2 linked regions of the Homo sapiens genome follow. The protein of the gene in region 1 purifies or fractionates together with the protein of each later gene. This does not show direct contact. Each region holds a gene or a part of one and is shown on either strand. Other genes may lie near its edges.

Evidence for each region.
Region 2: the proteins of ETV3 (region 1) and COPZ2 purify together in Homo sapiens (affinity purification with mass spectrometry; one large-scale study listed by BioGRID and IntAct). This does not show direct contact.

The regions. Positions count from the first base shown.
Region 1 is NC_000001.11:157,124,896-157,128,543, reverse strand, and holds part of ETV3 (ETS translocation variant 3), read left to right. Parts: exon of another isoform or gene 1-182; intron 183-2,564; coding exon 2,565-3,648. UniProt on the Homo sapiens protein: Transcriptional repressor that contribute to growth arrest during terminal macrophage differentiation by repressing target genes involved in Ras-dependent proliferation. Represses MMP1 promoter activity.
Region 2 is NC_000017.11:48,035,698-48,039,445, forward strand, and holds the start of COPZ2 (coatomer subunit zeta-2), read right to left. Parts: upstream 2,101-3,748; 5' UTR 2,081-2,100; coding exon 1,970-2,080; intron 1,551-1,969; exon of another isoform or gene 1,464-1,550; intron 1,229-1,463; coding exon 1,154-1,228; intron 1-1,153. UniProt on the Homo sapiens protein: The coatomer is a cytosolic protein complex that binds to dilysine motifs and reversibly associates with Golgi non-clathrin-coated vesicles, which further mediate biosynthetic protein transport from the ER, via the Golgi up to the trans Golgi network.

The DNA of each region.
Region 1 (3,648 bases):
TCCCCAGGTAATGCCTTTGTTCTTATTGGCATCTGTGTAAGAGAATCCAGTGGCCTGACCTGTCTTCCACCCAAAGAGACATGGAGATTAGGCCCAGTCTCGTGCTTGCCTCCCTTTTCCACAGTGTGGCACTGGGCACACTTCTGAACACAAATCTTCTTGCCTTTCTCAATATCACCCGTATTTAATTCTCTCTTTCATCACTGGCAATATGAAGGTTCCTGCTCGGAAGCCAGACGTCCTGCTCTCTAAATCAGTGGCTTAAAAAAAAAAAAGTCCTGCAGAACAGTTTTCTGTGGAACATTAGTTTGGGAAATGAGGCTCTGGCATAGTGTTACTCAGTCCCATGCACCCAGAAAGCTACAGTCTTACGAATACCAGCAGACTCCAGAGTCTGCTAGACCAAGAGGAGAAGGCACCAGCTGATTGGGAGCAATTCATAACCATCCCATATCTGTGTACCTTTTTTGTTTCCACTCCTAGATCACTATACTTAAAATTTTGTTTTTTTCTATTTTTTTCTTCTCCTTTGTTCTTTCTTCACCTTTGCCTGAGAACCCTGCTGACATTATTATAGAAACTGCTGACACCTCCGAGGAACCCACAGGTCCCTGAGACTTCAGATGGCATACCTTTTTCATGTCTTATCAGGAGGATCACTGGGGAAGTTGAGAACTGTGAGCCACTAAAGTTGATGGGCTGGGCGCAGTGGCTCACACCTGTAATCCCAGCACTTTGGGAGGCTGAAGCAAGTTTATCGTTTGAGGCCAGGAGTTCGAGATCAGCCTGGCCAACATGGTGAAACCCAGTCTCTACTAAAAATAACAAAAATTAGCCGGGCATGGTAGCACACACCTGTAATCCCAGCTACTCCAGAAGCTGAGGCACAAGAATCACTTGAACCCAGGAGGTGGAGGTTGCATTGAGCCAAGATGGTGCCACTGCACTCCAGCCTGGGCAACAGAGTGAAACCCTGTCTCAAAAAAAAAAAAAAAAAAAAAGTTGACATAAGTAGCACAGTGTATGTTATCACTTAGAGCTTTACATTTTAGTAAGCAAACTTGGAAGAAGGAATAGTAGGTCCTGGATTTTCTCCCAGCCTCCTTAATGTTTGAAAGCAGGTTGGAGATGGAGATCATTCAGTAGAATTTGTTAGAGGAATATAGATTTGGAGAGATTGAAAAATATTTGAATCTCTGTGAAGCAGTGATTGTATATCAGGAATGATAAAACACTTGGTAATAAGAACTTAACAAATGTGTAGCCTTTTTAAAAATTAAACTGTTTTTACTAAAACATGGTCAGTGTATGTGAGGTATAGGGTCTTTGAGTTTTATCTTTGAGTTTTTAATGCATTACTTTCCATGCATGTCATTTCCAGTTTTGTTGATTTGTTTTTTGGTTTGGTTTGTTTGCTTTTTATATGCGGCGAAGCGGTGCATCCAGGAATGGGGCCTTGGCCCAAGCAGAGCTTCTCTGGAGGTGCAGTCAGCCAGGGCAGCTATGCCCCTCCCCACAGTCAGCCAGGGCAGCTCTGCCCCTCCCCACAGTCAGCCAGGGCAGCTCTGTCCCTCCCCACAGTCAGCCAGGGCAGCTCTGTCCCTCCCCACAGTCAGCCAGGGCAGCTCTGCCCCTCCCCACAGTCAGCCAGGGCAGCTCTGTCCCTCCCCACAGTCAGCCAGGGCAGCTCTTCCCCTCCCTACAGTCAGCCAGGGCAGCTCTGTCCCTCCCTACAGTCAGCCAGGGCAGCTCTGTCCCTCCGCACAGTCAGCCAGGGCAGCTCTGCCCCTCCGCACAGTCAGCCAGGGCAGCTCTGCCCCTCCGCACAGTCAGCCAGAGCAGCTCTGCCCCTCCCTACAGTCAGCCAGGGCAGCTCTGTCCCTCCCCATATCCCATCTCGAAATATATCTGTATTCCAACAAGGAAAAATGGGATAGCATGTGGGTAGTCTAGGCAGTGAGTAAACATCAGATGTCCTCTTGTAGCAACTATCTATATGTTGTTATTATTTTCTATCTTAAATGTTCTCGAATGTTTATATTTCAGTAAACCTCTACCTCGTCACACACACACACGAATATATATATATGGCCAAAATTATGGAAATAAGACTATTTGCAGAGCTAAAAATTGAAACAGGTAATATATACACAATATTTAGAGTTGCAGAGGAGAAGGCTCTTGTACCCATTCATTCATTCCACTTAATATTTATTGTGTACAGGAAGTACACAACCGTTAAGCCCTGAACTGTGAGGTGTACAGTTGTGAACAATAGGAAGTCCCTGCCATGTGGAATTTAGGTTGTAGAATATGGATAAGCAATTACAATGTTTTTGACAGTAAGGAGTACTGTGAAGACAGTGAAGAGCCTAGAGAAGGATGACAAGTTGAGTAGAAGCAGCTGAGCAGTAGTTACTAGGAAGTTGGAGAACTGTGGGATTCAGTCCAGTTGGAATGATTGTTTCCTGTTACTACTAAATATTTTGCACTTAGTTAGCATAAGTGATGATAATGAATGAGCAGTCCTCTGATGCAGGCTTTTGTATTTTCCACCATCACAGGTGTGGTTCCTCAGAGTGCACCACCAGTGCCAACAGCCTCTTCCCGGTTCCATTTCCCACCTCTGGACACCCATTCTCCAACCAATGATGTGCAGCCGGGACGGTTCTCTGCTAGCTCCCTAACTGCTTCTGGCCAGGAGTCCAGTAATGGTACTGATAGAAAGACTGAGCTTTCAGAGCTGGAGGATGGCTCAGCTGCTGACTGGCGCCGGGGTGTGGATCCCGTGTCCTCCAGGAATGCCATTGGTGGAGGAGGGATTGGCCATCAGAAACGCAAGCCTGACATAATGCTTCCTCTGTTTGCTAGGCCAGGGATGTACCCTGACCCCCACAGTCCCTTCGCTGTCTCTCCAATCCCTGGCCGCGGAGGTGTCCTTAATGTCCCCATTTCACCAGCCCTCTCCCTGACTCCCACCATCTTCTCCTATAGCCCATCACCAGGCCTGAGCCCTTTCACCAGCAGCAGCTGCTTCTCCTTCAACCCTGAGGAAATGAAACACTACCTTCATTCTCAAGCTTGTTCTGTGTTCAACTACCATCTGAGTCCTCGGACTTTTCCCCGTTACCCAGGGCTCATGGTTCCACCACTGCAGTGCCAAATGCATCCTGAGGAGTCAACTCAGTTCTCCATCAAGCTGCAGCCCCCACCAGTTGGGCGGAAGAACCGGGAGAGGGTTGAGAGCAGCGAGGAGTCAGCACCAGTCACCACGCCCACCATGGCTTCTATTCCCCCAAGAATCAAGGTGGAACCTGCCTCTGAAAAGGATCCTGAGAGCCTCAGGCAGTCGGCACGAGAGAAGGAGGAGCACACTCAAGAAGAGGGCACTGTGCCAAGCAGGACCATTGAAGAGGAAAAAGGCACCATCTTTGCCCGTCCTGCTGCACCACCCATCTGGCCCTCTGTGCCCATTAGCACCCCAAGTGGAGAACCTCTGGAGGTGACTGAAGACAGTGAGGATAGGCCTGGCAAAGAGCCCAGTGCACCTGAGAAGAAAGAAGATGCACTGATGCCCCCCAAGCTTCGGTTGAAGCGGCGCTGGAATGATGACCCTGAAGCCCGAGAGCTGAGCAAGAGTGGCAAGTT
Region 2 (3,748 bases), on another chromosome or scaffold:
ACAGGCATCAGCCACTGCGCCTGGCCTTACAACACATTTCTTTTCTTTTTCTTTTCTTTTTTTTTTTTTTTTTGAGACAGAGTTTCGCTCTTGTTGCCCAGGCTGGAGTGCAATGGTGTGATCTCGGCTCACTGCAACCTCTGCCTCCCAGGTTCAAGCAATTCTCCTGCCTCAGCCTCTCGAGTAGCTGGGATTACAGGCGCCCACCACCATGCCTGGCTAATTCTTTGTATTTTTAGTAGAGACAGGGTTTCACCATGTTGTCCAGGCTGGTTTCGAACTCCTGACCTCAAGTGATCTGCCCGCCTTGGCCTCCCAAAGTGCTGGGATTACAGGCATGAGCCATCACACCTGGCCTTATAATGCATTTCATAGCTAATGCAGATGCTATAGCTCCCCTACAATTAATTGTGTTGACAGCAGAAATTTATTTTTGGATTATTTTAGTTTGGTTCGCTCAGGCCATGTTTGCTAGGATAGATAACAGCTAATTGAATGGGGGTACAGTGAAAACCACCTTGAGCTTCATGTCAAAAAACCCGAGTTTGCCTGTGAAACCTGTGAAATGGGAGAAGTGAAAAAATTAAATAAGTAAATAAATAAAATTTGAGTTTGGATCTGTTAGGATATTAATACTTGTGACCTCAGGCAACTCACTTAGCTTCTCTACCCCTCATTTTCTTCATCTACGAAATTAAAGAGTTGGATTATACAGTTTCTAAAATCCCATCTGGTTCTAAATCCTTAGACTCCTTAGACTAAATCGTTAGTGTTTACCAAGCTGTAGAACAAAAGTGGAGGTTTAGAGACAAACCCCAAAGAACAAAAGAACTTGTGTGGGGGTTTGGGGACTAAGACTCCTGGGTCCCAGGCTCAACACTCCACTGACCCATTAGGCAGAACCTTCCCATGCCCAGGTCCAACTGGCCAGTAGCAGGATGATAAGGAAACATTTCAGGGAACATGAGTAGAAATAGAGGAGACCCCTCATTTCAGGGAGCAGCACCTTGACAAGGCAGGAGGATGAGAAGGACCTCTGGAGGGGTCTAAGCTGAGCTGCCCTGAGTCACAGAGATCACAGTGGAGTTTCTCCTGAGACAGGAGTGTCAGCTGAGTGGGAACTGTGTCCCTCATGGGTGGGGTCAGAGGTTACCTTGGCCAGCAGCCGGCGCCCGTCATTATCTAGGATGAAAACAGCCTTGATGGTGTAGAGGGAAGGTTCCTGCAACTGACACCGGAGAGGAGAGTTCCGTTTGGCCCCTGACTCGAGGTGGACACCCTGTGTCTATGGGATCTGCTGGCCCTAGGATACATCCTCAGGCCCCAGCAACCCCAGTCCTCAAGGTCCACAGCTGGTTCTGCCCAGCCCTGTGCCACATGGGCCAACCCAGGTGCCCACTCCACTCCCAGGCAGATGTTCCACTGCAGGCCCCGAGTGGGCGCTGTGCCCGTTGGGTGCAGAAGGTCCTTCCGGGCCCAAGTTCTGTCATGCACTGACTGCTCCAGAGCCCGAGTCGGAGTGTATCACAGAACCTGGGCCGGGGGGGACAGCGGGCCGAGCCTCCTTCTTCCAGCTGATCCCTGGCCGGGCTGGACCTGCGCTATCAGCGCGCCCCCAGGCCCTGGCCCGGGTAGACTCCAGAAGCATGCCCATCACCCACCGGTGATGGGAGCCGAGTCTGGGACGGACAGGCCACTCCTTACCCTCCCCGCGGAATCGCAACTCACCCGCCACCCCCACTCCAAACGGACCCAGAACTTCAGCCCCGCGCCGACGGACTCAGGACAGGCCTCCTCTCCGGTCGGCGCTGGGACGAACTTTTCCTCCCGGGTCCTGGGGCCAGTCAGGGGTGACACAAAGTTCCCAGCCGCCGGGCGCGCGAGTTCTGAGTTGGCTGCTCCCCCTAACCCTGCTCTGTCCCTGCCCAGCTCCCGCCGCCCGGGATCCCCGCGCCCGCCCGCTCCGTACCCGCAGCCCCGAGGGCTCCCCGGCTCGAGCAGGCGGCGCCGGGCCCCCGGCCTGGGCCGCCGCGGCCCCCTCCCCCGGGTGCGGACGTGGCCAGGCCTCGGGCCGCTGCATTCCGCTCGCCGCCTCGCACTGACAGCGCCGCCCGCCGCCTGCCCGCCGCCGCCGCCCCGCCTCCGCGCCGCCCCGCGGCCCCCTCTCGCGCGTGGCCTCCCTTTCCTCGGGGCCCCGTCCTCTTGCTCGTTCTCCCCCATCTCCCCTCCCGCCCTCACCCCACCTCTCCTTCCCCCACTTCTCCTCTCCCTCTCTCCTCCTTGGCTCCTTCCCGAGTCCCTTACATCCCCGAACTCTGCATCCTCAGGGTGCCCCAAGACCAGCCCTCGTCCTGCTTCCTGCCTGCTCTCCGGCCTGTGGCTTTGGTGTGCGCCAGTGTCTATAGGCTGTCCTGGGGCCAGCAGCAAACACAAGCAAAGCCCACTTTTGTCTGTTGACCTCTGGTAGGTACCATGAGGACAAATACGTCAGGTCACCCTTTAGATCTCAGGGACAGGGTCTATAAGCAAGAGCAAATGAGGACAGTTCTGGGGACACCCCTCTGTGAAGAGGCTTTCTCATTCCTCTCTCACTACTTGCAGAAGGCAACCATGGGCCCGGAGACACCTCCCCAGGCTCTCCTAAGTCACAGATATGGCACCATCAGAAGCAAGACAGACGCCCAGCAGCACAAATGCTCCACCAATGACATCGGGCTTTGCAGCATGTTTTGGTTTCTTTGGTCTAAGTCTAACTAAGACAAGCTCTCATTTCAGGGTACACTGGCAAGTGGGAAATTCACATCCCAGTGATATGTTAGTGCTACGTATGCATTTACCGGTAAAAACACTGTGCGTGTATTTTACATTTGACACCTTCACATCCATTATCTAATATAGCCCACACCTGTAAGATAGGCATAATGGACCCTCATTTTAAGCAAAGAGAGACTCAGAGGTTGTGTGACCTTTTCAAGACTATACAGCTAGTTGACTGGGGATAGAACCCAGATTTTTGACTCAAAATTTCTTCCCTATTCTTCTCTTCAAGCCCTCTTATGTTGTGGACCACAGTCACTTACCCTAGATGGTTACAGAATGGGGTTTTCCTCACTGAATGCATCAAGTCTTCTTATCTTCAAGCCTCTGCTGAAATATAATTACCAAAAGGTCCTCCTGACAGCCACCATATCTGACTTGATAGGTCTCTCCTGTCACATTCTCTCAGTTCCTATTTCTTTCTTTCATTGCACTTTTTTCAATCTCTAAATATTATTTTTACTAATATTGCTTGTTTGAGACACGGTCTCACTCTGTTGCCCAGGCTGGAGTGCAGTGACTCGATCTGGGCTCACTGCAGCCTCAACCTCCTGGGCTCAGGCAATCCTCCCATCTCAGTCTCCCGAGTAGCTGGGACCACTGGTGCATGCAACCACTCCCAGGTAATTTTTTATTTTTTTATTTTTTTTATTTTTGTAGAAACAAGGTCTCAAGTCTGGGCTCAATGGCTCACATCTGTAATCCCAGCACTTTGGGAGGCTGAGGTGGGCAGAAGGCTTGAGCCCAGGAGTTCCAGACCAGCCTGGGCAACATGGTAAGATCTAGTCTCTACTAAAACTACAAAGAAATTAGCCAGGTAGGGTGGTGTGACCTGTAGTCCCAGCTACTCAGAAGGCTGAGGTGGGAGAATCACCCGAGTCTGGGGGTTCAAGGCTGCAGAGCCATGATCATGCCACTGTGCTCCAGCCTG